Linked DNA regions of Homo sapiens: region 1 is linked to region 2. Evidence: fine-mapped expression QTL. A gene starts in region 2. The other region holds a variant in brackets. All regions are shown on one strand. Distances are from middle to middle. Region 1 overlaps DOCK2 (dedicator of cytokinesis 2). Region 2 holds the start of DOCK2 (dedicator of cytokinesis 2).

Evidence for each region.
Region 1: its variant is fine-mapped to the expression of DOCK2 in whole blood (TOPMed, PIP above 0.99).

What each region holds. Positions count from the first base shown.
Region 1 is chr5:170,076,144-170,088,079 of GRCh38, reverse strand. DOCK2 (dedicator of cytokinesis 2) reads right to left here. Exons shown (of 52, transcript NM_004946.3): 48 at 10,243-10,370; 49 at 8,934-9,105; 50 at 7,797-7,917; 51 at 6,096-6,238; 52 at 4,698-5,284. The coding sequence ends at 5,222. Among named protein-coding and RNA genes, the nearest start is that of FOXI1, 24 kb to the left of the region's middle. The variant G/C (reference allele first, on the strand shown) is at 7,051.
Region 2 is chr5:169,630,970-169,642,960 of GRCh38, reverse strand. It overlaps DOCK2 (dedicator of cytokinesis 2), which reads right to left and starts at 5,686. Exons shown (of 52, transcript NM_004946.3): 1 at 5,592-5,686. The coding sequence starts at 5,634. RefSeq lists an enhancer at 4,889-4,988 and silencers at 5,249-5,308, 5,339-5,818.

The sequences.
Region 1 (11,936 bases), 450 kb before region 2:
CCTTGTTTTAACTTTACTACCTGTTTAAAGACCCTATCTTCAAATAAGGTCACATCTTGAGGTATTGGAGGTTATTATTTCAACATGTGAATTTTAGAAGGACACAAATCAACCCATAATATGGTCACAAGGTAGGGCCAGAGTGATGCCCCCATTGAACTGGAGGTGTGACGACCACTTGGCCACTTTGGCTTATCATGCTCATGGATCAGCAACTGACCCTGATTACATGAGGACCTCGGATGTTGATTCAATAGGCGCAGAGAGGAGCGTGCCTGGAACCAAGGGGATCACTGGGCCCTTTCTTAGTACACTCATGCCCACTGGTAATGATCACTAGGTAATTACAACAACCACAAACCAAGAAGGGTGGAGCAATTAGACTCAGACCCTTTGGGGATAAGAGGTCTGAGCAGCCCAGCAGGCAGGCAACCCAGTCCAGATGAAGTGTGACCTGTGGGTCAGAGACACTTAACTGGGTGGTGGAGGAAGGAGATAATGAGTATCTGTTATAGTCTTGGTCCAGCTGCAGTAGCTATCGTGGCTTCTTTCACAAATCTTCTTGCTGTAGGTTGTGTGGGAGATCATAACTAAATGCCGCCTTGAAGTGGACTCTGTGACTGCTTGGACTGGGACATCCCTTCTTGGGAAAGGAGAAAGCACATGAATTTGGACATCTCTTATGGGAAAGAAAACATGTGGACTTGGACATGTGGAAAGGAAAAAGCACATGGACTTGGACATCCCCTCCTAGGAAAGGAGAAAGCATATGGATTTGTTCATCTTTTTGTAGGAAAGGAGAAAGTACATCTTATACACACACTCACACACACAGAGAGAGAGAGAGAGAGAGAAGATTCACAAGCTATAATAGGAGCAGGAGATAACAGAAGGGGCATGTGAGGGTCTGAATGTCCCAGACAATCTCATATGCCTTTTCGGCTCCTTCAGAGGCCATGGTTTTCTGGGACGCCAGCTGTCTGCTCTACCTCAGTAGCCACTGCAGCCAACTTAGGTTCACATGGTCCTCCCACCTGGAGTCCACCAGTTGCTTGTCCATAAGGCCTTGCTCTTCCCTTTTCTTGCTGCAACAGAGCCCAGACTACTGGCTTATTCCCTGAGTTGCTGGTTTCTTACACAAATTCTGCCCTTGGATGGAATGCCACTTTGTGGGGCGTGGGATCTAGCTTCCCAAGCAGCTACTGAAAGGGCTAAATGATGCAATCCACAGGTAAAACCATGAAGGGTTTTACCATACCCAACAGGGGGAACTTACTACTAGAAACAGGAGACTGAGGTAGGGGCAAGCTGGGCAAATACATTCCCTTTTCTTCCTTTTTTTTTTTTGACAGAGTCTCACTCTGTTGCCAGGCTGGAGTGCAGTGGCACAATCTCGGCTCACTGCAAACTCCACCTCCCAGGTTCAAGTGATTCTCCTGCCTCAGCCTCCTGAGTAGCTGGGACTACAGGTGCATGCCACCACACCTGGCTAATTTTTGTATTTTTAGTAGAGACAGGGTTTCACCATGTTGGCCAGGATGGTCTTGATCTCTTGACCTCATGACCCACCCACCTTGGCCTCCGTAAGTGCTGGGATTACAGGCGTGAGCCACCACGCCCGGACTTTCTCCTTTTTACAGACTCTTCTGGGGTTTGATTTCTCTATTATACCCTGCCCAAAGATACCCTGCTCAATGCTGCCTGACAAGTTGAGTCTCTTTGTGGCTTAGTGTGAACCAGAGACAAGTAGAGTTAATACCTCAACTTTCATTGCTTCCAATCCCTTTTCCCTCTTTCCTTCACCCTAAGATTGCACAGCCCCAAAAGAGCATGGCATTCAATCATTGCCTGAGGATCTGTTTCCTAGGGAACTGAAGCTATGGCAGGGAGGCAGAAACACCCAGGTTTCAGCCAGGAGAGGCATACAGATGTGTTACAGGTTAGCATGTCTGGAAAGCAGAGCCCAGCCTGATTTTGGATGCTGGGAAGGCCATTTGTTTCCCTCAATTTCTCTTCTACTTGCTGACATAAGCCTGAAAGCCTAGAAGAAAGAAGGAAGACTTCTACTCCATGCTTAGGAATAAAGGCTAAAAATACCCCTCCCTTAAGGAAAGGAAGGGAATGTAGTGCTCTAGATCAAACCAAAGTATGAATCGCAGATATCAACCCTGTCTTGGAGACAGAGAACAAGCGTCACTGGGTGCTTAAAGAGAAGGTGAGAGATTTCCACTGATGGGAGATTACCTGGAAGAAGACCTGGATTCCAGATTGGGTCCTGCTGATCACAGCCATTGGAGAGATCACTTAACTGTGTAAAATGAGAGCACTGGATGAAGTGGTCCCTAAGGGTCCCAGAAAACAGCATCAAGAAGGGAAGACATATAAAGAGATCCTTCCTCCAATCCCATCCAATGCTACCTCCTTCTGGAAATTCTGAGACATACACCCTTCCTTGAGATGACTAGCTTGTTTTGGACAGAACTTGTATACAATAAGGGAACATCGGTGGTACCAGGAGGGCTATGCCAAATGCCTAACCCCACCTTCATTTTTCCCAGGTGCCACCATTGGCATTGTAGGAGAAGACTTGCAAACAATCATGGACGGTGAAATAGAGTCTGACATTGAGCTGAGGTCCCAGGTATAAAGTGAATGTGTGGATTAAGATCACGAGGCTTGGTGTGGATAGAGATGGCTGTGTCCCTTACTAGTCAGGTGACAAGGCCACATCACAAACTCCTCAACCTTGGAATTGAGTTTCACATCAATGTGATTGGGACCGTAGTGTCTAGCTCATAGGATTGGTGTGAGGATTTAAGGAAATGACATATAGAGTAAGTGCCTGGTAAGTGGCAGCTGTATTATTATTATTGCTTGTTATTGTTATTACTACTGGCATTGTTTTTCCTGCCATGTGATGGCAGCATCTAAAATTTTTCTGGCAAAGGATTAAGTGGGCTGTCAACCTCATTTCTTAACTGAAATGACATTTGACTTTCAAACCCTGTTTATGGGTTTAACGTCTTGCTCCATTTATATGGGAAAACAGGGAAGTGCCAATGGTCCCCTTCAGACTTAATAAGAAAACTCATAGATACTGATAATCTTCAGAAAATAGAACTCAGAAATATTATTACCAGGGTCACACGGTGTTAAGCGAGAAGATCAATCAGTTACAGAATTTTTAGGGGTTAAAGCTTACTTTCTCGGGACGACATAGCAACAACCTCTGAGTATGGGTGTTTTTCAGTACTCCCGAGTGAGGGTAACATCTGCAGTTTCAAGGCACAGGATCATATCTGCTTTTCTGTAGTTGTGGGAAAAGGGAGAACCATTTTCTTTTCCTTGTTGAGATTTGCCCCCTCCTCCCTGGCCCCCACTGCCCACTGGTATTTGGAAGGGCTTACATGTCAAAGCTAAACAGTAGGATTTTATCAGTTCATAATAAGAGAAAAAGCAGGCATGAGAAGCCAAGCTCGTAATAGAGTCCAATCCTCCAGGTGCTGCTTACTCACCTTAGGGAACCCAAAGGTGTTTGTTGTAGCCCAAACCCCAACAATCATCGCAACAGGACTTTTTAGACTGTTGAGGAAACTAGAAGCTGAACTAGGCAACACGTCTTCAAATGGGGCTTGCAGCAGGGACATAGAGGCCACCAGGGACAGGCTGGGGTGGATAAAGGCTACCAAGACTCAGGATATTCTGTGCACTAAGGTGTCCCAGAGACAATGTAGGGTGGTGCCTAAGAGTCAGGCTTCCCACCCAGCTGTCTGGGTTTGAATCCCAGCCATTCCATTACTAAGCGTGTGATCTTGGGTCACTTCATGCTTCTGTGCCTCCATTTCTTCATCTGGGTAGCAATCGTATCTACCTCCTAGGGCTGCTGTCTAGACTTAGGAAGTTCATTCTTATCATGTCTATAACACTGTCCCAGAGACAGTCAGGGCTCAATAAATTTGAGCTACCATCATCATTCTTTCTCATCTCTTACTATACCCCAGGGACCCAGCCTGTAAATGAGCATCCACCCCAAGGTTTCCAGATGGCTCTAGTTCTGAAACCTGTGTTGTCATGCACTTACCCAGTATTAATTTCCTTCTCAAATGCAGTCCTCCGCCTCCTTCTGGACCCCTCCCCTGCACAGCTCCCTGCTCTCTGTAGGATCCAGACGTGGGACTTTGCTCCCATCCTCTCTTGCTGCTGCCTGACAAAGCTACTCACCTCCTTTGGGCCTCATCTGAAAAACCTGAGAATTCCTCCAAGAAAAGCCACCACTTGGGAGCCGGTGACAAGATCCAAGAGCTGGACCATAAGTCCACTGGACCTCAGACCCCTCTTTTCCTAACTCTTTGGCATTATGTTTGGTCTTTACTAGAGTGACCTGGCTTGGGTGGTCTTGCCATCTCTTTCTAAAGGTGAAGAAAGGAGGTATGACACTCCACTATTCAGATTCGTGAGGAAGACCAGGGCAACTTTTTTAACATGCTGGTAGCCCAGGGTTTGGCACCTAAGGAACAAGAGTCATGGAGATTCTTGAAGAATCTTCTCATAGATGAGGTGGGGAAATTTGGCATTGGGCAAGGGCATCACCAGGCTCCTTCACATCACTGCAGCCCCTGGGCCTGCCTTCCTTCCAGGGAGCTTCCTGCCCAGTCCTGGGCCCAGGAGAGTCAGCCAACAGAATCAGGCAACAAGGCTTATTCGAACCAAGAGAACATTTTTTATTGTCAGTAAGAAACAGCAACTCTTCAGAGATGATTGGCTAGAAAAGAAACTGGTTGGTTGTATAAAAAAATGTAAAGTACAAAACTGTTAATCTAAAATAAAATTAAAAAGAATATTTAAAAGGCTTCCTTTTCTGTTAAGTTCTGAGACTTAATAAATGAGATAAAAACAGTTTCTTACACCTAAGAAACTGGGTTATGAAAGCTGTGCCTAGGATGTTGGGGAGAGCACACTGGGAGAAGGCATTCTTGCTGGTACCTTGAGTTCAGGAATCTACGTTGAGGCTTCCTCATCCACCATGATCACAGCCCCAGGGGATGCTGGGCTTGTTAGCATTCAAGCTCTGGGACCTGATTGGCCTCTCTGTCTCCTCTAAGTAAGGACAACTGATGGGGACAGTCTCCCACTCTCTGAGGCTTCGATGTTCCACGCATGGCTTTCCTCTTCCAGAAACTCCCCTCCCTGGCTCTCCCATGCAGCCCTAGTCAGCAGCAGCTCACAGGTCCGTGGACAGCGAGTCTGGGATCTGTTTGCCTTCTTCAGCCGATTTGCTGGCCAGCTTTTGAGAGAATAAACAAGCACAAAACCAAGATGCGATTATCAGATTAAGCACCAAAATGGAGCTTCCCAGTCCTAATCACAAGGGCCTCAACACTGACCCCTGCCCAAAGCCCAGTGAATGTGAGCTGCTATGCCCTTGGCTTTGGCCAGAAAGGCAGTGGTAGACAGTAGAGTGAGCCCAGGCTCACTAGCCATGTGGACTTGGGCACCTCACTTACCAAACCCTGTGAGCCTCCCATATAAAATCCTAAGAGTGGGAGCTCAAATGGCACCATGCTTGGGAAGTGCTTAGCATGGTGCCTGACTCATCGTGTGCTCATGGTAAACTTGAGATATTTGTAGTAGCAGAGTCCTGATTTCATATTACCTTGAGGATCAGATGTGTTATGGTACCTTCTTGATCTTGAGCAAAGGCCAACAAGTAACAATAGGAGATGGGACTTGCAGAATCAGCGCTTGGAAACTAATGTTCAATTTGTAGGATTTTGTGATATAGGTTGAATAAAAAAGGGCTGGAGCACTAAGGGGCAGTTTAGGCGAGGGTAGGCCACCTACTGCTTCTGAGGTCCCTGGGTCCTGCACATCCCTAGCTGGGGTCAATCCTGGTCAGAGGAGCTGCCTGAGGCCCCAGAGGAGAACTGCCCTCTGGGCATTGCTGCACAGTGTCCCAGAACTCAGGGCCTCCTGACTATGCCTCCCTAGGAATGACCACATATGCACACACAACCCCCCATTTTCTTCTCTCTGCATTGCTCTCTTCCCTTTCTCCTCCCAATGCCTTCCTTTCCTTCCACCCTCAATGTCCTCACCATTGTCTTGAAGAACTGATTGACCTTCTTCCGTGTGAGTGTCTTCTTGTCACCATCTGAGAGTTGGAGGAAGGTCTGGCTGAGGCGGGGAGATGTGTTGGCCTCATCCAACCCAGGGATGCCTGCCACTGAGAGCGCCAGGGCTGGAAGGAGAGCAGAGCTGGGGTGTGAATGGGTGGGTAGAGGAGGGGCAGTGCCTTGGGGGAGGTAGACAGGGGGAGGGCTGGGGGACAGAGCCAGCATCCAGGGATCACACATTGTATGTGCCAAGCAGGAGGCAGGATGCCTATTTCCTGCCGTGCCAGGGGACATTGAAGCTGTCCTCTTGCAGTGAAGATTGCCCACCCTACAGACAAGGGTTCAGCCTCCTGGCTCCTGGTCAAAACCTTGCCCCAAAGCCCTGACATCCCCAGGAAACAGAACCTTCTGCTCCAAGGCAGGGGACAGTGTGAGCTTACTCTTCCTCCAGCTCCCAACACCAACACCCTGGATTTCTCTCCCCATTGCAGGAGACAGCGGGAAGAGAGTCTCAAACCCACGTGTCACCTGGTGGAGGGGCCAGATGACCTAGTGGTTACAGCCCCAGCTTGGCGTCACAGAGACATGAAAAATTAGTTACTCTCTGACTGCTGGTTTTGACATTGGCCAAATGGGAGAAAGAGCCCAGACCGCCAGGGTGTGGTGAGACCTGCTGAGCAGATACCAGTGAAATGGCTTGGGCCAAATGTTGCAGCTGTGTTCAGGCTATCCTGGGGGTGGTGGCGGGGCAGTGGGTAGGTGCCTGTTCCAGGGAAGAGGGCCTGGGTCTGAACTCAGTCTCTGCCATTTGCTGGCTGGTGATAGGCAAGAGAGTGATGTTCTCAGTGCCCCAGTTTCCTCATCCATACAATGGGGTGGATAACATGAACTACTTCCTGGGTATGCGCAGTGGAGTAAATGAAATAAAGAAGGAGTA[G/C]CAGTTGGCGCAGGGCCTGGCACCCTCAATGTTCAGGAAACAGCAAGCGTCTTCACCATGATCGGCCTGCTGAGTTCCACAGGGCAGCACTGGTCCTGTCTTGTTCCCTTCTGACCTGGCCCTTAGCACACAGAGCCAGGCACATAGCAGCAGACGTCAAGGACTTCTGCCTACCAGATGGAGTGCTCTCAGGCATGCCATGTCCCCTGTTAGGGCCTCAGATTCCCTTCTGTGAGTTAGGACCATCGGCTGTGCTCTAACCTCCTCACTGGACAGTGAGTGAGTGACGACGGTGGCAGATAGGTAGCATCTATGCACCAAACACTTTGCAGCTATAAGATGTGGTGGCCATTTCTGTAAAGCCAGAAAGAGTCTTCCAGGTCCACAAAGAAGCCACAGGTCTTAGGGACATACCAAGGGCAAACTTCTGGCCCCTGGGGAGGCCTGGCTAACTGAGAACAAGGGGCCACCTAGTGTGACAAATGGATGCTCAGTGAATCCTGAGGGCCCAAGGGACAGCAGGCCTCTCCCCTGTCCCTGCTGGAGCTTGCTGGGATGGTGTCACCCCCAGGAAGTGGTGGGTGTGGGGAGAGATTAGAGGGTGGGTGGCTATGAGCAGAGCCTCTCACTCCAGGATGCCTGGCCCACTTTGTTGTGTAGACACAGTTCCCATCCATCCTCCACCCACAAGGCTGGTGGCCTGCACTATCTCTACTCCCTCATGCTGGTGGCAGCAGGGGGCATACCTGGGATGGTAGGCATGGACTGGCTGGCAAAGCTCATTTGAGAGAGGACAGACGCCTTGAGGGGGATGGCCGCATGCTCCGAGAGGTTGGTGTCACTCATGAACTCATGCTTCCTGGAAAGCTGGAGGAATACACCAGACACACACACACACACACAAAGACAGAGGCTTAGCATGAGGCAGATCTGGGTCTCTGAAAGATCAGTGAGGAGGGCGTGGCATGGTTTCTATGAAGCTGGCTCCAAGTTCATTTATTCTGTATTATACCATTCCATGCCAGCCTGCCACATATGGTTGCACAGGTTGCACACTACACAACTACAGGCGGGGGTGGCGGACATTCATTTAGACTATCATGTAAATGGTGTCCCCTAGAATCGACAAACACAGAAGACATTTCCATTCTTATCCATCCACGCAAGAGTAGCCTGCGAGGCCCACTGGGAAGTTTCTGGAGGGCCCTTTCTTCACTAAGGCATCTTGGTTGGCCCCTTGCTCTTTCATTTGGCACCCCTCCCTTGCCAGGGCAGTTAATCCATCTCCCACTCCCAGGTTCCCAGAACACTTCCAACAAACCTCTTTTCCAGGGGGAAACTAAGATTGAATCCAGGGCTGTCTGAAACCAAGTCTCATTTTTAAATAATCGTTAGTTTACAAGACCAACACTCTCAAAGCCAGGACAGTGAGATTTCATCCCTGTATCCCCACCTGGACTCCTGGCACACAGGAGGGGCTTGCAGGGGTCTGAGACATCAGTGGTTAGAATAGGCCTGGGGCTGGGGGCTATAGAAACACCTAGCTCAGTACCAAGTGGGCTGCTCTCCCTTTTGGTGGGAGAACAGGTGGATTCTCCCCAGCCTGGAAAAGCCCTGTGTGATGGTGGAAAGGATACACACAGGCTCTGAAGTGCAAAGGTCAGGGCTCAACTCCCAGCTCTGTCATGTCCCAGCCACCCCAGCTGCCTGGGCACGAGTAAGCACTTCACCTCTCAGCTCCTCAGGTGCCGCCTCTGCAATACCCATAGCACCGCAGTGGCAGGCTTCAGGAAGCCCATATCTGGAAGCCCTGGGTTTTGTGCCCAGCATGTAGTGGAAATGTGCTAACAGCGCTGGAGAGGCAATCTGCCTCAGCCACTCACCCGCTTCAGGTCCGACTCTGCAGCTGCTTTCTCATCCGCAAAAACTACGCTGCTTCTCTTTGTCCTCTTCTTGGACCTCCGCAGCTTGACCTCAGGCAGGGTGCTCCCCGGGGAGATCGGTTCCTCCTGCTCCACTCTCGGCGTCTTGGGTGATGCTAATTCCAGGTCAAAGCTGAAAGGCCAGAGGGGCAGCAATAGAAACTGCAGTTAGAGCTTCAGTAGAACTGCCTTGCAAGGACCCAGGAAGCTGAAGGGGACCTTTGGGCTGCCTGAGCTGTCACTACAGGGTCTGGAGTAGATCAGCAAATCTGGCAGAGGATTTGGGGAGCAACTTGCTCAATGCACAAACAGTTAAATGTGATGAGTAAAGTTCACTTTATTTTATTCGTGGTAAAATGAAATTGAAAGAAGTGAGCCATAGAAAAGAAACTGGTGGTGAGGAGAGAAGACTGGTTGAAAGCATGAATGTGGATTCAAATCCAGGCACGGCCAGTTCTTAGCTGAATGAATAACTTTGGGTAAATCACTCAACCTCTTCAAGCCATCATTTCCTTTTCAGTAAATGGAGGTCTTCGCAGAGACCTTGCAGAGTGGCCATGAGATGATGTCTGAGGAACCCTTGGCATATTCTTGGCATATGGTAAGTGCTGGGTTGCTCATGTATCTATGATTAGAACAGATGAGTTGGGCAGGGTGAATGGTGCCCCCTAGAATTGTGAATGATGCCCCCTAGAACTGTGAAACAGAAGACGTTTCCATCCTTTTCCCTCTGGGCAAGAGTAACCTCTGAGGCCCGCAGGGAAGTTTCTGGAGGGTCCAACAATGATGGCCAGAGGGCTCCAGGAAGGTGGAAGGGGCAAGGGAGGGAAGACCCCCGACAGAGGGGTGGGTAGGTGGTGCAGGAGGAAGAGCTCTGCAATGGAGACATCCCATCGTGGTTGGGAGGAGCTTCCTTGAAAGGGAACAGATCCCTATGAGAGGTGACAATATTCCAGAAGGATGCAGGCTTGGTGAGGAGCTCTGCCTGGCTGACAGAGATCACTGGACTAGAAGTCTGGGGGCTGCAGGTGACTCCTGCTGGGTCCTCAGGAAAGCTGCCTTGCCTCTCTGAGCCTCTGATAATCCCCTAAAAATGGTACTAACCATGAGCCTCCTGGGGTAGTTGTGAGACTGCAGATGGGAAAAGGCTTTTAAACTGAAAGGAGGAAGGGAAAGGTAGAAGGGATGTTGCCGGAGAAGAGAGAGAAGGAGGGGGGATAGAGCCAGGGAGGCAGGGGTGTGGGGGGCTCCTTGGGGTGCAGGGACTGACCTCTCTGAGGTAGGCTTGCTGGGGGTGCTGCAGTCAGAATTCATGGAAGCCAGAGAGATGATGGACATCTGTCTGTATGAGCGCAGCATAGACCTGGGACGGCCCACTCTCCTGTCGTCAAAGTCAGGCTGTGGTGGGAGAACAGGGTGGTTAGCAGCTGTAGCCTGGGGAAGGTGGCCCCAGCCTTCCTGTCACCTTCTTCCTCCACCTAGGCAGGGCAGAGTTGTGGGGCTGAGTGGAGCATCAGCACAAAAGTTCCTGGCTGGCTGAGGCTAGGGCGTTCTTGTAGAATGAAGAATGTGGATGACCTTTACTCCTGGTTCCTGGAAGGTAATATCTAAAACTTTGGAATTTCCTATGTGATAGTAGTATCCTTGTTATTATTCATGGTGGCCCCCTTGACCATACTTGATTTTATGCTAATAAGATGGCTCCTGATGGCCAGAAAGACCAGCTCTATGATTATAGGGCTGGGCTGGGGCTTTAAGCCATGTGGTATCAGCTCAACCTCCAGGGAGTGGACAGGCCCAGAGACTGATTTCCATCACATGGCCAATGGTTCAATCTATCATGACTACATAATAAAACCCCAATAAAAACTCTGGACATTAGGCTCTAGTGAACTTCTCTGGCTGGTAATCATACATCAATGTGCCAGAAGGGGGATGCATCTGGAATACGTGGAAACTTCATGTTTGGGACCCTCCTGGACCTCACTCTGTGTCTCTTTACCTGGCTGGTCTTGATTTGTATCATAAACTGAAATCATAAGTATCATGCTTTCCTGAGTTCTGTGAATTATTCTAGTGAATTATGAAACCTGATGGGGTAGTGGGAATCTCCCAGTTTGTAACCAGTTAGGCAGAAGTGTGGGTGGCCTGGGTCCCTGAAGCTTATGGTTGGTGTTTGAAGTGGGAAGTGTCTAAGACTGTGCTTCTAACCTGTGAAATGTGACCTAACTCCAGGGAGTTAGCACCAGAATTGCATTACAGGGACTTCATGTAGGGAGTATTGAAAGTGACAAACTGCCTCATGGAAAAAAATCTTTGAATCAAGAGACCTGAGTGCATCTGTAGGTTCTTCCAGTAATTCACTTTTCTTCTCTGGGTCTCAGTTTTACCATCTGTAAAATGGGAAGGCTGGACCAGATGGTTTTAAAGGAATTGCATGGCCTTGACATTTTATAACACCAGTTAATAAGGAAAAGGATGAAGAAGCACCCCGTAAGCACCAGGCTCATGGCCTCTTTAGGCCAAGGAGCTCAGCGGTCAAAATCACTGGCCTTAAACTAACAGAGCCAGATGCAAATTCTGCCCCACATTCATTTGCCACATAGCCTCTGGCAAGTTGCCTGACCTTCTGAACCTCAGAAGAAATACAAAGGATTAAAAATCTTTCCTGCCTCTCAGGCTTGTGGTGAGGATTAAATGACCTAGTAGATGTCAAGTGCTTGAATCAGGCCTGGCACATAGTAGATGCTGCATCAGTGTAGCTTTCATTATTATTACACAGTCCCTTGAGTAGTTGGTATCTGCACAATCCAGTTGTAACTGGAGTTTGTCTGGGGGTTACTTTTGCTGGACCAAGTTTCCAGGAGGGTTCCCCTGGATGGGATCCAGCAATGCTGGCCATCATTATCTTCTCTTTGGAAGCAGCTTCCTTTGCTGGATCCCCTCCAACTTCAGCCTCCAGCA
Region 2 (11,991 bases):
TATTGAAAAAAAAAACAAATCCAAAGGTCCAGAAATTAGCGGAGCAGTATGGTGACTACATTTCATCTCTCAAAAGACAGCAGCAATAGGATGCTGATCTCAGGAGGAAGCAGAGCTTAGAAAACACAATCTGTCTTCAAGGCTCATTCAAATGCAAACATTATGGTCAGGGGCAAGATGTCCACTGCCTAATGAGGTGCCCATATAACTACGGATTAGGACAATCTCCTTACATGAACTCAAACAGCCAGCCCAGCAGGCACTCCTAAACAGACCCAAATTGCTGAAGCATCTGAAAGTAGGAAGCCCCGGCACCTAAGAATTGGTGGCAGGAAGGAATTAGATGTCTAATCCATGTATTTTTGTTTCACCAGACTAATTTCTGGGGACCAATCCAAAGGTACAGTCAGCCACTGTAGCAAAGATGCATGTATTAATATCCCTCCAAGCATTGGCTTTGGGATTCTTTTCCCCATTGCTCCTGAGAGGCCTTCTCACATCATCTAATTCAAGACCATTCCTAATATTCTCACTCATATTAAAACAGCACATATCACAATTTGTAATTATATGGTTACTGATTTATTCATGAAATTCTTTTTCATCTTCCCTATTAGACTACAGGCTCCAGAAGGATAGGGGCCATATTGGCCTAATTCTAGTAATCTCAGTGACTAGCATAATGCCTGGCACACACACCCAACAAATATTTAAGAAGTTAATGAAGAATGAATGAGTGAACAAATGGACAAGTTAATGAGTGAGTGATGCTCTCTATCCTTTCAACTGTTGCATTTGGCAATAAAAGCAGTATAATTGGTCCCTCTGTAGTGAAGTTCTGCTCCTGGGTATGTTTGGGATGCAGTTTCCACTCATGCTTCCAACTCAAAGAATCAGTCCCCACCCATGGCTCCTGCTAGAGGAGTAGCAAGCCATGTGACCCCACCTCATAGTCACAGAGAATTAGACCTGCCAGGGGCAGCACCCTCACCAGAGTGAGGCCCATTATTAGGCTGGCAATGAACTCTGACTTGGGTTGTCTTTCTTACAAAGGGAAATCAAGCTACCACTCTCTTCTGTTGGGACTTTGAACAAATAAACACAGAGAAGATTCAGTGGATGCTTGAACTGCAAGGTTGTGCAGAGATGGGTGGGTTGCATGCTGGGGCCACCACTGTGGTATTAGAGTATCAGTTACGAAGGAACAATGCAATCAGAGGGAGGTGGTGGGGAGAGAAAGGAGACCACAGTTGGCATGCTCAGAGAAGCTGAGAAGCCATGAGAGGAGAGGCAGAGGTTTCCAGGGTTGCCTCAGTTCAAGCCCTTTCCGAGGCCTGGCTCCTCCTGTTTCCTGGATTTCCATGTGATTCCTCTGACCCTAAAATACACCACTTCTCCCTGCTCTCCCACAGATACACACCACACACATTTTCGTTGAACTGGTTTGACTAGATTTTGTTCCCTTCAACAAAAATCCATGTGCAAATGACACCAGCACACATTGCCCACGCCAAATCTGTCAGTGTGCATGGATCAGCTCTGTCCAGGGTCCTGGGCTGCGACAGCATCACCCACATCCCTGAACCACGAGCTGGTTATGGATTCCTCCATATTCCCCAACCAAGCTGTGAAAAAGATCCCTTCTCTGCTTCTGCAGAGCCTGTTATGGTTTGAATTGTGCCCTCCCCCTCCAAAAAAAGAGACGTTGGAGTCTCAACTCCCAGTACCTCAGAATGTGATCTTATTTGGAGACAGTCTTTACAGAGGTAATCACATTTAACTGAAGTCACTAGGGTGGGCCCTAATCTAATATGACTGGATGTCCTTTTTAAAAGGAGAAATGCGGAGACAGACACGCACACAATGAGAATACCACGTGAAGTTGGAGGCAGCGATCAAGGCAACGCTTTTGTAAGCCAAGGAATGCCGAGGATTGCCAGCAAACCACTGGCAGCTGGGGGAGACACCTGGAACAGATTTTCCCTCAGCCCTCAGAAGAAACCAACAAATATTCCTCAACACCACACATGGGTGTAAAACCATAGCTAGAGAGAAGCTGCATACAGAACAGGTTTCTGATCAAAATATGCCACTTCCATAGGGCATATTGATTATTTTGAGCTGGATGCAAATAAGAATCAACAGGTACAGCAAGAAGCTTTCCTGGATATTTATCTGAAGAAACTCCTAAGAAATAAGGACTGTCATAAATCCCCTCTCCCAGGGAAGTTTTATGGCAATGAAGAAGACAGAAAGTTGGCTCCAAGATGAACCTGCACAAATAACCCTTTATCTTCCATTAGATTCCCCATATATTTCCCTTCCCACAGTTTGCTGCCCTTGGAGGCCTAAAACCCTCCTTTGACTTGCTACTTCTCTAAACCTTTATTGTACCTTTGCTAAGATGCTGTATAAGCTCAAGTTCAAACCAACCCTTTGAGTACTCCATATGTAAGCAGGATGTACATGCTAATAAACTTGTTTGTTTTCTCTTGTTCATCAGTCTTTTGTTAGTCTAATTTACAGAAAACCCAAGATGCAGTAGCAGAAAGAAGCTTTTCCCTCCCCTACAAGAATAACTAGAGTCCCACACAAATCTGCCTGGCAGGCTCAGCTTCAGGGTAAACAAAACTCTTTTCTACCCTCACCCTTTATCTCAGGACTCCTGCCTTGAAGCCCTCTTTATAGTCCCAAAATACCATGCCAGAGACCACAGATTATTTGTCATGAATTTGTGTCCCCACCAAAATTCTTATGCTGAAGTCCCAGTCATCAGTGTCTCAGAAGGTACTCCTATTTGGAGATAAGTGCATATTCGGAGATAAAGGAATTATTAAGTTAAAATGAGTCCTTTAGGGTGGGATGCTAATCCAATATGACCGGTGTTCTCATGACAGGAGGAAGAGACAGCAAGGGTGTGCCTGCACAGAAAGCAATGAAGAGGCAGCAAGACAGCCATCTGCAAACCATGGAGATAGGCCATGAGACAAGCCAACCCTGGTGGTGCTTTGATCTTAGACTTCCAGCCTCGAGAACTGTGAGAAAATACATTTCTGTTGTTTAAGCCACCCAGTTGGTGGTATTTTGCTACAGCAGCCTGAGCAAACTAATATATCATCCTCAATATTCTTCCTCCTCTCCTTACTTATGAAGAGAACTCCTAATTTTTAGCTGGGTACATGGCTGCCTACATTACAGACTACATTTCCTAGCTTCCCTTGCAGCTATAGTCAGTCATGTGATTACATTTTTGCCAATAGGATGTAATGTAAGAAGAAATGTCAAGTGTGCCTTCAGGAAAATGTCTTTAAAGGGAAAAGCCATGACCTTCTTTTTCCCTGCATCCTTTTTGCTGGCTGGAAGGTGGACCTGATCACCGAAGCTTAAGCAGCCTATGTGGCTCAGGAGGCAGAAGTCACATGCCAAGGATACAGTGTGAGATATAGAATGAGCCACCTTACCACCTCTTCCCAGACCATTTCTGAGCTTTCCATGAGAGACAGAAATAAACTTGCAGCTTGGTTAGGCCACAATTTTGGAGGTTTTCTGTCACCCTTTGTCACACTTAACCCTAACTGATACTGTTAGTTTCTCTTTCTACCTCCTTCTTTTCTGCCCTTTCCTCTCTCCTGCAAGGAGAAAGCTCTCTTCACTGACAAGAGCCTCAGGCAGAGTGGATTAACCTAGTAAAGGTTAACAGGCAATGTTGATTATAAGTGACCTCCTGCTAGATTAACCAGGCAGTCAGCAGACAGGTAAAACTGTTACCCATTTTCCTTCTATTCTAAGTCCAATTCCCCACTCCTATCCTAATTAACTATTTAACTTCTTCCAGATGACACTGCTCAAAACCTCCAGTGCTCAGAGAAGGAAATCCAAACTTTGAAGGTTGGCACTCAAAGCCCTTCACAATCTAGCCATAATCTACCTCTGAAATTTTTTTAACACTAAAAGCAATACTAAAACCAAAACAGACTACTTATTGTTTGACCCACACACTTCAGGGATGCCAGTTCCCTGCCTTTACCCATGATGTTCCCCTTCTAGATGCTTTTCTGGTGCCATGCAAAGGGCCTAGGGTCTGAAGACAATTGAATTTAAGGCCCGCTCCATTGCTTCCAAGTGATGTAAACTTGGTTACTTCACCTGTAAGTTGGGAATAATACACTGCCTCACATGGGGGTTCTGAAGTCAGACAGAGATTGCATGACCTTTGGTCTTGCAAACCATGAAATACTACAGTCTCATAAGGCATGACTGTCCTGAATCTGGCATTAGGGTGCATCTTGGTGCTGGTGTCTCTTGGTTCTGAAGCTGCTAGGTAAGACCCTGGACCTGAATCACTAACTCTTATTGAGCCAGCACACTACTAAATGCTTTCCATGCATAACCCCATTCAATCCTCACAAGAGTCTCATGAGACCTGCATTATTATTACTTCCACTTTATAGACGAGGAAACAGACCCTGATTTGAACTCAGTTCTGACTTCCCAGTCCAAGCCTCTAGCCTTACACATAACTCCTCAAGGGCAGAAGCTGTATCCTTCCTTACTTTGTAACTGCCCCTTGAGATATGAATTATTATTTGTTCTCTGGATGGGGACCATTTATATCAAAATGACCCCACAGTGCCCGGTACCCAGTAATTGAGTGGATAACTGCTGATCTCTCCAGGGCAGTGTTTCCCAAACAGTGGCCTGGGGACCCCCTGCATCAAATCCCTCTGGGTGTTTGGGTCTTCCAATGCCTCACCTGCGAAATATTTATCTCTGAGATGGTGTCTGGTATCCGCCTGTGTAGGAAGCTCCAGAGTGACTTTTTATTTGATATTTAAGTTTAAAAACCACAGTGAGTCCATGGAGATTGCACCACGGATGACACTTAGAGTAGCAGCACCTGAGGCCTCCCTTCCCCCAGCCACCACTTCCGCCCCTGAGCTCCAGGCAGAGGCTTCTGGGAGTTTAGATGGCTGAGGCTGACGAAGCTAGCTTCTTGGTTACCCTAAGACCACCTGGCGGGAGCCTTTTTCCCCAGAGGCTCTGGGGGGCTGAGTAGAGAACCCCACCGTCCAGCCCCATTCCCCCAAGCTTGAGCTGCCCTCTGGATGCCCTGCCAAATCAGGAGTCATCTGACCCAGGAGGAACAGACAGGGGAAGCAGGCAAATGGGTGTCGCTTTGGAGGGGGTGGAAGTATGCATGGTGGGCAGGCCAAGGCTGAGCCAGGGGAGAGTGGAGCTCCCTCTACAAGGCCAAGTCTCCCACGCGGCGAGCTGGGGCACTCCTGGGGACGCCGAGTTTGGCGCGAAGAACTGAGTTGTCAAGCGCAGGTCTTGACCCTATCTCGGAAATGTCTAAGGTTCCCTCAGCAGGCGAGAGGGCGAGGGCTGTGCTTAGCCTGCGGGGTGGGGTCCCGCCGTCCTCTCCCCGAGCCTCGGCTTTCCCGCCCCGAGGCCCCGCCGCAGGCTGCGCCCTCTGACCTGCAGGCAGCGCGCCCTGCCCACCCCGCGCCGCCGGCCCCGCAGCATCCTCCTGCTCGCGGCTCTCCCGCCACCTGTCCCGCTCCCTGCCGCGCCCTGGGGCCCGCACCTACCCACGCCGTGCCGCTCCTTGTCAGCTTTGCGCCAGGGGGCCATGGCTGGGCCGGGGCCTCGCGTCCTCCCGTGGGGAAGCCGTCAGGGGGTGGCTGGGCGCCGCAGGGCCCCACTTCCTTCCTCTTTTCAAACTCCTCTCAGGGCCCGCCCTCTCCTCCCTCGCCGGGGCTCCCCGCTCCCTCCTCCCTCCCGTTGGGCAGGGGCACACTAGAAGGCTGGTGCCCCGTAGGCTAAGACACGCCACCCCACCCCACTTCACGCAAAACTTGGGGACCACTCCCACTTTGTCTCCTCCCCAGGCGAGGGAGCAGAGGCCAGTCCCCACCTGGGGCTCGCCAGACCACCACCGCAAGTGCAGAGAGTTTCCTGATTGCCGTGCCTAGGGACTGAACAAACCTCCTTAACTCCCCTCAGCATGAGCTTTGGTGTCAGATCTCGGTTCGAATCCAGACGGGGACAAATGACTTCATTTTTCTAAGCTTCAGTTTTCTCATCTGTGAAATGGGATACTAATACCTACTTCATATGATTATTGTGAGGGTTAGAGAGACAATGTACACAGCAGGTGACATGGAAGAGTAAATGTTTACCTGGAGGTGGATCCTTTACAGCCTTTTTTTTTTTTTTTTGTGAGACGGAGTTTCGAGTTTCTCTCTTGCTGCCCAGGCTGGAGTGCAACGACGCGATCGCGGCTCACCGCGACCTCCGCCTCCCGAGTTCAAGCGACTCTCCTGTCTCAGCCTTCCCAGTAGCTGGGATTACAGGCATGCACCAGCATGCCCGGCTAACTTTGCATTTTCAGTAGAAACGTGGTTTCTCCATGTTGGTCATGCTGGTCTCGAACTCCCCACCTCAGGTGATCCGCCAGCCTCAGCCTCCCAAAGTGCTGGGATTACAGGTGTGAGCCACCGTGCCTGGCCCATTTACAGCTTTTTATCGTTTTGGTGCTACAAACCCGTTGGAAAATCTGATGTAAGCTCTAGAAGCTCTACTCTGAAAATACGTAAATACACTATTTACCAACATCACTGCAAGGTGAAGGGTGCTGTCACAGCCAGCAACAGTGGGACCCAGGAAAAGAGCCCTAGAGTTAGGCTAATGGAGACATTTCCTCGAAAAATCTCATTTTTGCTCTGAGAACAGATTCTGTCCAAAAAAAAAAAAAAAAAGTCTGATCCACAGTGATAAGGCTGAATTTAAGTTTTGCTGAGTTTTCTTTCTTTATTCATGACTCTCACTACCCCTTTCTGCCTTACACTGGAGAGTCATTAAGATAGATTAGGCAATATCACAGCTGAACTGGAGCAACAAAAAATTATTGATTTTGTTTTATCTGCAGTTATTTTCTTTTCTGTTTTCTAGCAGCACAAATTAGGTAATAATGTCTTATACAGTCAGCAGTGGTATTAGGGTTCCACCAGATGACCAGAGTAGGAGATTTTATATATATGCATACATATATATACATACATACATATATGCATATATATATACACATACATACATACATATATGCATATATATACACATACATATATGCATATATATACACATACATATATGCATATATATATACACATACATATATGCATATATATATATATATATATACACATACATATATATGTATATGAGAGACAGAGAGAGATTGGGGATTGGCTAATGCGATTGTGGGGCTGTCAGGAAGAGCAGTTTGGAAACTCACAGGCAGATGTCCTCAGGAGGAATTTCTTCTTTTTCAAGGAACCTCAGTTCTATTCATAAGGTTTGTCAACTAATTGGATCACACCAACCAAATGTATTGAGGATAATCTCCCTTAATTAAATTCAATGTATGGTAGATGTTAATCACATCTACAAAGTACTTCACAGCAACCCCTGTGAAGATTGTGAAGATTGGTATTTGATTGAATAACTGGGCCATAGCCTTGCCAAGTTGACTCACAAAACTAGCTATCACAACAATGTTATAAATTGGGACTATACAATAGAGGATGCCAAACATTTTCTGTAAAGTCACAGATAGTATTTTAGTCTTTGCAGTCCAGAAAGCAAAATCAAGTATATATGTAGGATGCAGGTACTTATGTAAAGAAAGAAAAAAGGTTCTAAATTTTTTTTATTAATAAAATTCAAAATATCATGTGAATGAGTATTTTTTGTAATACTAGCTTAGTAAGGCAAAAAAAAATACATTTTGGGAATGATATCACATTTCACCTTATTGGAGTTCAAAGTTAATGTGCCTTATCGAAATTGATTCAAATATTCATATGTTAATGCTGATCTGACAGGATATTTACTTTCTATTTCTGAAAAAAATGTTTACCAAATGGGCAATGGTTAAAAGTCCAGAAAAGCTAATAAAATTAACCTTTGATACCACTGATTCAATAACATCACAGATTTAGATATTTTCCACAAAGTACCTGATGGTGAATATTACAATTAATAATCATAAGCTTTAAATATCTTATATTTTCACCCACCTTCTAAATTTGCTCCAAAAGCCTTCTTCTGCTCCACAGATATTTTTTTTACCATGAACACTAGCAACACATCTTAGCAGATTCCACTTCAGGTTGTGTTGAATTAGTGTTTTCTCATTTTCTTTTAAAGTAATCTTGCCTATAGTTCTTCTACACAGGCTCTTCATAGAAGCTATTTCTTCATTCACTTCGAACTCAGCATTGACTTCTCAAATAAACAACAACTGAGCTGTATTGGTAATATTTGTCAACAAGAACTAAGGAAAACCACTAGAAGTCATTTTAAAATTCACTATTGATGCTTCTGTCAATGTTCTCAACCAAGCAACCAGTGTCACCAAAAGGCTAAAAGTCTTAAACTAATTTATTTTCACTGGATATATTTCATCTGCTGCTATAATCAAACATGATTTAATGAACTTAACATCAATAAAATATTTTGCCTTGCTTGCATAACAAATAAGCCACTTGGAAACTTATTCTGGTTGTAGTCTCATTTTCACTTTTTATTATTTTAAAGAAATTGTGCTGTGATGAGATATTCTGTTTTAAATTTTCTAATTTTTCTTGTCATTGCTTTTGTGTAAGTTGGAAAAGATGTGATGAGTGCTTAATCTATTATATTGTTTGGAGTGTCAACATGTAATAAACACAATGCTTTCTCCTCTGCTTTGTTTGTTTTGTGCTGCTATAACAGAATGCTACAGACTGTGTAATTTATGATGAACAGAAATTTATTTGGCTCACACCTCTGGAGGCTGGGAAGTTAAATATCAAGGGGCCAACATCCAGCAAGGGCATTTTTTTGCTGTGCCATCCCGTGGTGGAAGGTGACAGGGCAAGAGCCAGAGAGCAAGAGAAGCCCAAACTCACTTTTATAACAAACCCACTCTCACAATAACTAACCACTCCCTCAATAACTAACCCACTCCTACGATAACAACATTAATCTATTTATGCAGAGCCCTCATGATCTACTAATTACATCTTATTAGGCCCCACCTTCCAACACTGTTGCTGTATTGGGGATTAAATTCCCAACTCATGAACTTTGGGGGGGGTCACATTTAAACCATAGTGCTATTTAATTTGGTAACAAACAATACACACTCCACTGTGCCTTAGAAGCATGACATTTGGAGCCCACTATTCTTTCTTTTCTTTTTGACATGGTGGCTATAGCACTGGTAATTTTTTTAAATGTTACCATAGAGAGAGATATGCACTTTAAATGCTGTGGAGTTGTAATCTCATCCTCGTGATTAGTGGGTTGCTGGAGAGCACTGTGTAGCATTGAAAACACCATACACAGTCCTTGTTGCAAATAGTCAACTCTGCCATTGTAGAATGAAAACAACTATAAATGATGCATAAATGAATGAGCATGGCTGTGTTCCCATAAAATGGAATTTTTACTTCCTACAGTTTTCATATAGCATGGAATGTTATCTTTATTTTGATATTTTTCAGCAGTTTAAAAATGTAAAAACTAGTCTTAGTTCATGGGCCATACAAAAACATGCAACAAGCCAGATTTGATCTGTGAACCACAGTTTGCTATCTTCTGCTATACACAGTTGTGTTGTCTTCATAAACTTGTAGCCAGTTGATCTAAAATACACTTTTTTTTTTTTTTTCGATTTAGGTTTAAGCTTCTGACATACAAACAGGCAACTTCACATTAACAGTGTGGTAAAGTATCTGATGGGAGGCCAAGAGTAGGTGGTGGTGCCAGAAAGCAAATAAGATTGAACTTGAGGAGCACTGAAGTTTTTTTTTCCCCATTCAACTTGTGACACAACCTATAATAGGAATCTCTTCCTTAAATAATGTTAAACAAACAAATTCAGCATATTAAAAGAGTTGAAAAACTGCTTTCAGTTGAAGGAGATGAAGTTTAGAAATTTTGACTGAGGGTTAATTAACTTCTTAATGGGGTGGCTTTTAGTGCAGAAATCTTTAAACTTCATATGGTTAGGAGATGGCTTTTATGTTTCTGAAATATGGGCTTTTCATTACAGTTAACAATCCTATGGCATCATAAAAATTTTTTGGCAAGAGAGATCAATAGTCAAACATAAAAATCTGACTAAAACCACTTAAAGAATTTACAATAATCTTGGTCACACAATTTTATTAAACACCATCTGTCAGTTACTTGACTATTAGGTAGTACACTCTTGATGACTATAACTTCACATACATTGTGAGGGATGACTGTGGGTAAAAGGACATCTCTAGCCAAGATTTCTGTTAAGTTCAGTCCTGTGTGTCCAACTACCTCCTAGACATCCCCTCCCAGCCCCATCAATGTCTCCATATTTCAAAACCAAGCTCATATCATAACTGTACCCTAGACTTGTCCCTCTTCTGACTGTTTCTACCCAATGTTAACAGATGAAGTGACCAGACTGTGCTTTAATCAGGTGCTAGAACCCCATCTCCATCACTTACCTAGCTTTGTGGTTTGCAGCAAATTCACTGAACACTTTCTGAGCCCCATTCATTGAATACTTACTGCCTTTCAATCCCTGATTTAAACAGTTGGCATGCATTATCTCGTGTCATCCTAAAAGCAGCCCCATAAGACAGGTACCATTATTACCCCAATTTTACCCCCAATTTGCTAATCAGCAAACTGAGGCCAGAGAAATGAAATCCCTTATTGTAGCCAATATCCACTATGATTGCCCATGAGTGCATCATTACCCTTCACTTCACTCGGGTCAGAAATTTAACTCATCCTAATCTTCCTTTCATTCCAAATGATAATCTCAAAAACAGCTGTTGAATCTGCCCTCTTCCCCATCCCACAAACTTAAGATCTTCCTTGAAACTTGGATTAGAGATCCCTTCCTCCAACCTTGCCTCCTTCCAATCTCTTCTCCATGTTACTTCTGAGAACCTTTGCCCAAGTAGTTTTGGTCTTCTCAAGCTTCTGGAATAATCTAGGAAAAATATAAGCAAAGCAGGTTTGTAATAACGTGAGAGGTTTAACAACTTTTGTGAAATGTGAAATAAAGACATTCCACAGGAAATAACTATGCAAAGCCTCAAGTATAGCCCAAAGAAATCTAACTGGACTCATGGTTTAGGTAAATTGAAGAAAACTCTTTCCCTAAGGCACAGCAGAAGGGGAGGTTTCTGATGTCCATCTTTTTCAGAGTCATATGTATTCAGGTCCAAGATTTGGCTGGATTTCACTAGTATGCCTGTAATGATTACTAAATATTGGAATATTTCCATACAGTTGCTAAATAGCTATATCTCAAGACATTCGAGTGCCCTCCTCCCATTCTTGCGTCACTACAGTGCCTGTCAGCTTGTTCTGAGTAGTTCATGGGGGTGGGCCCCCTACTGCACAAGTCCACCAACACCCAGCCAGAGAGCTCCTGGGCCCAGATAGGAGAGAGGGCTACCCGGAGTTAGCATTGGCACGTCAGTAGGTAGATGCCTAGAGGCTTCTGGTGTCCCACTGACCTGTGTCCATCACATGGCTGCCTTTGGAAACTCCATCCTCCACAGTACTAGTCAACATTTTTCTCATTGTCTCTTCTTGTGTTAGCTGTTACAGTCATGGCAAATAGCCGAGTATATTCTCAGCAGCTCAGACAGTCGAGAGCAAAAGCTTGTACTTACCTAAATTTTACTCACCAAAGAGGAGTCCACATTCCGATCAGGACCATAAAAGACTCTCGGTAAGAAGGATATACGCTCCCAAAATCAATTAGTTACAGTAAAGGAAGGAGGCCCAACAACAAAGATGGCATGTAGATAAGTAGGCATTCAAATAATTCTGCCTTCAGTAACAGACAAAACTCTAGAAGTGACTGTGGGAGTGAGGGTTGGCGATAGGGAGAATCAAGAGCTTTCCTGCTTACCTAGAGTTTGCTCTATCAGATGAATGTTA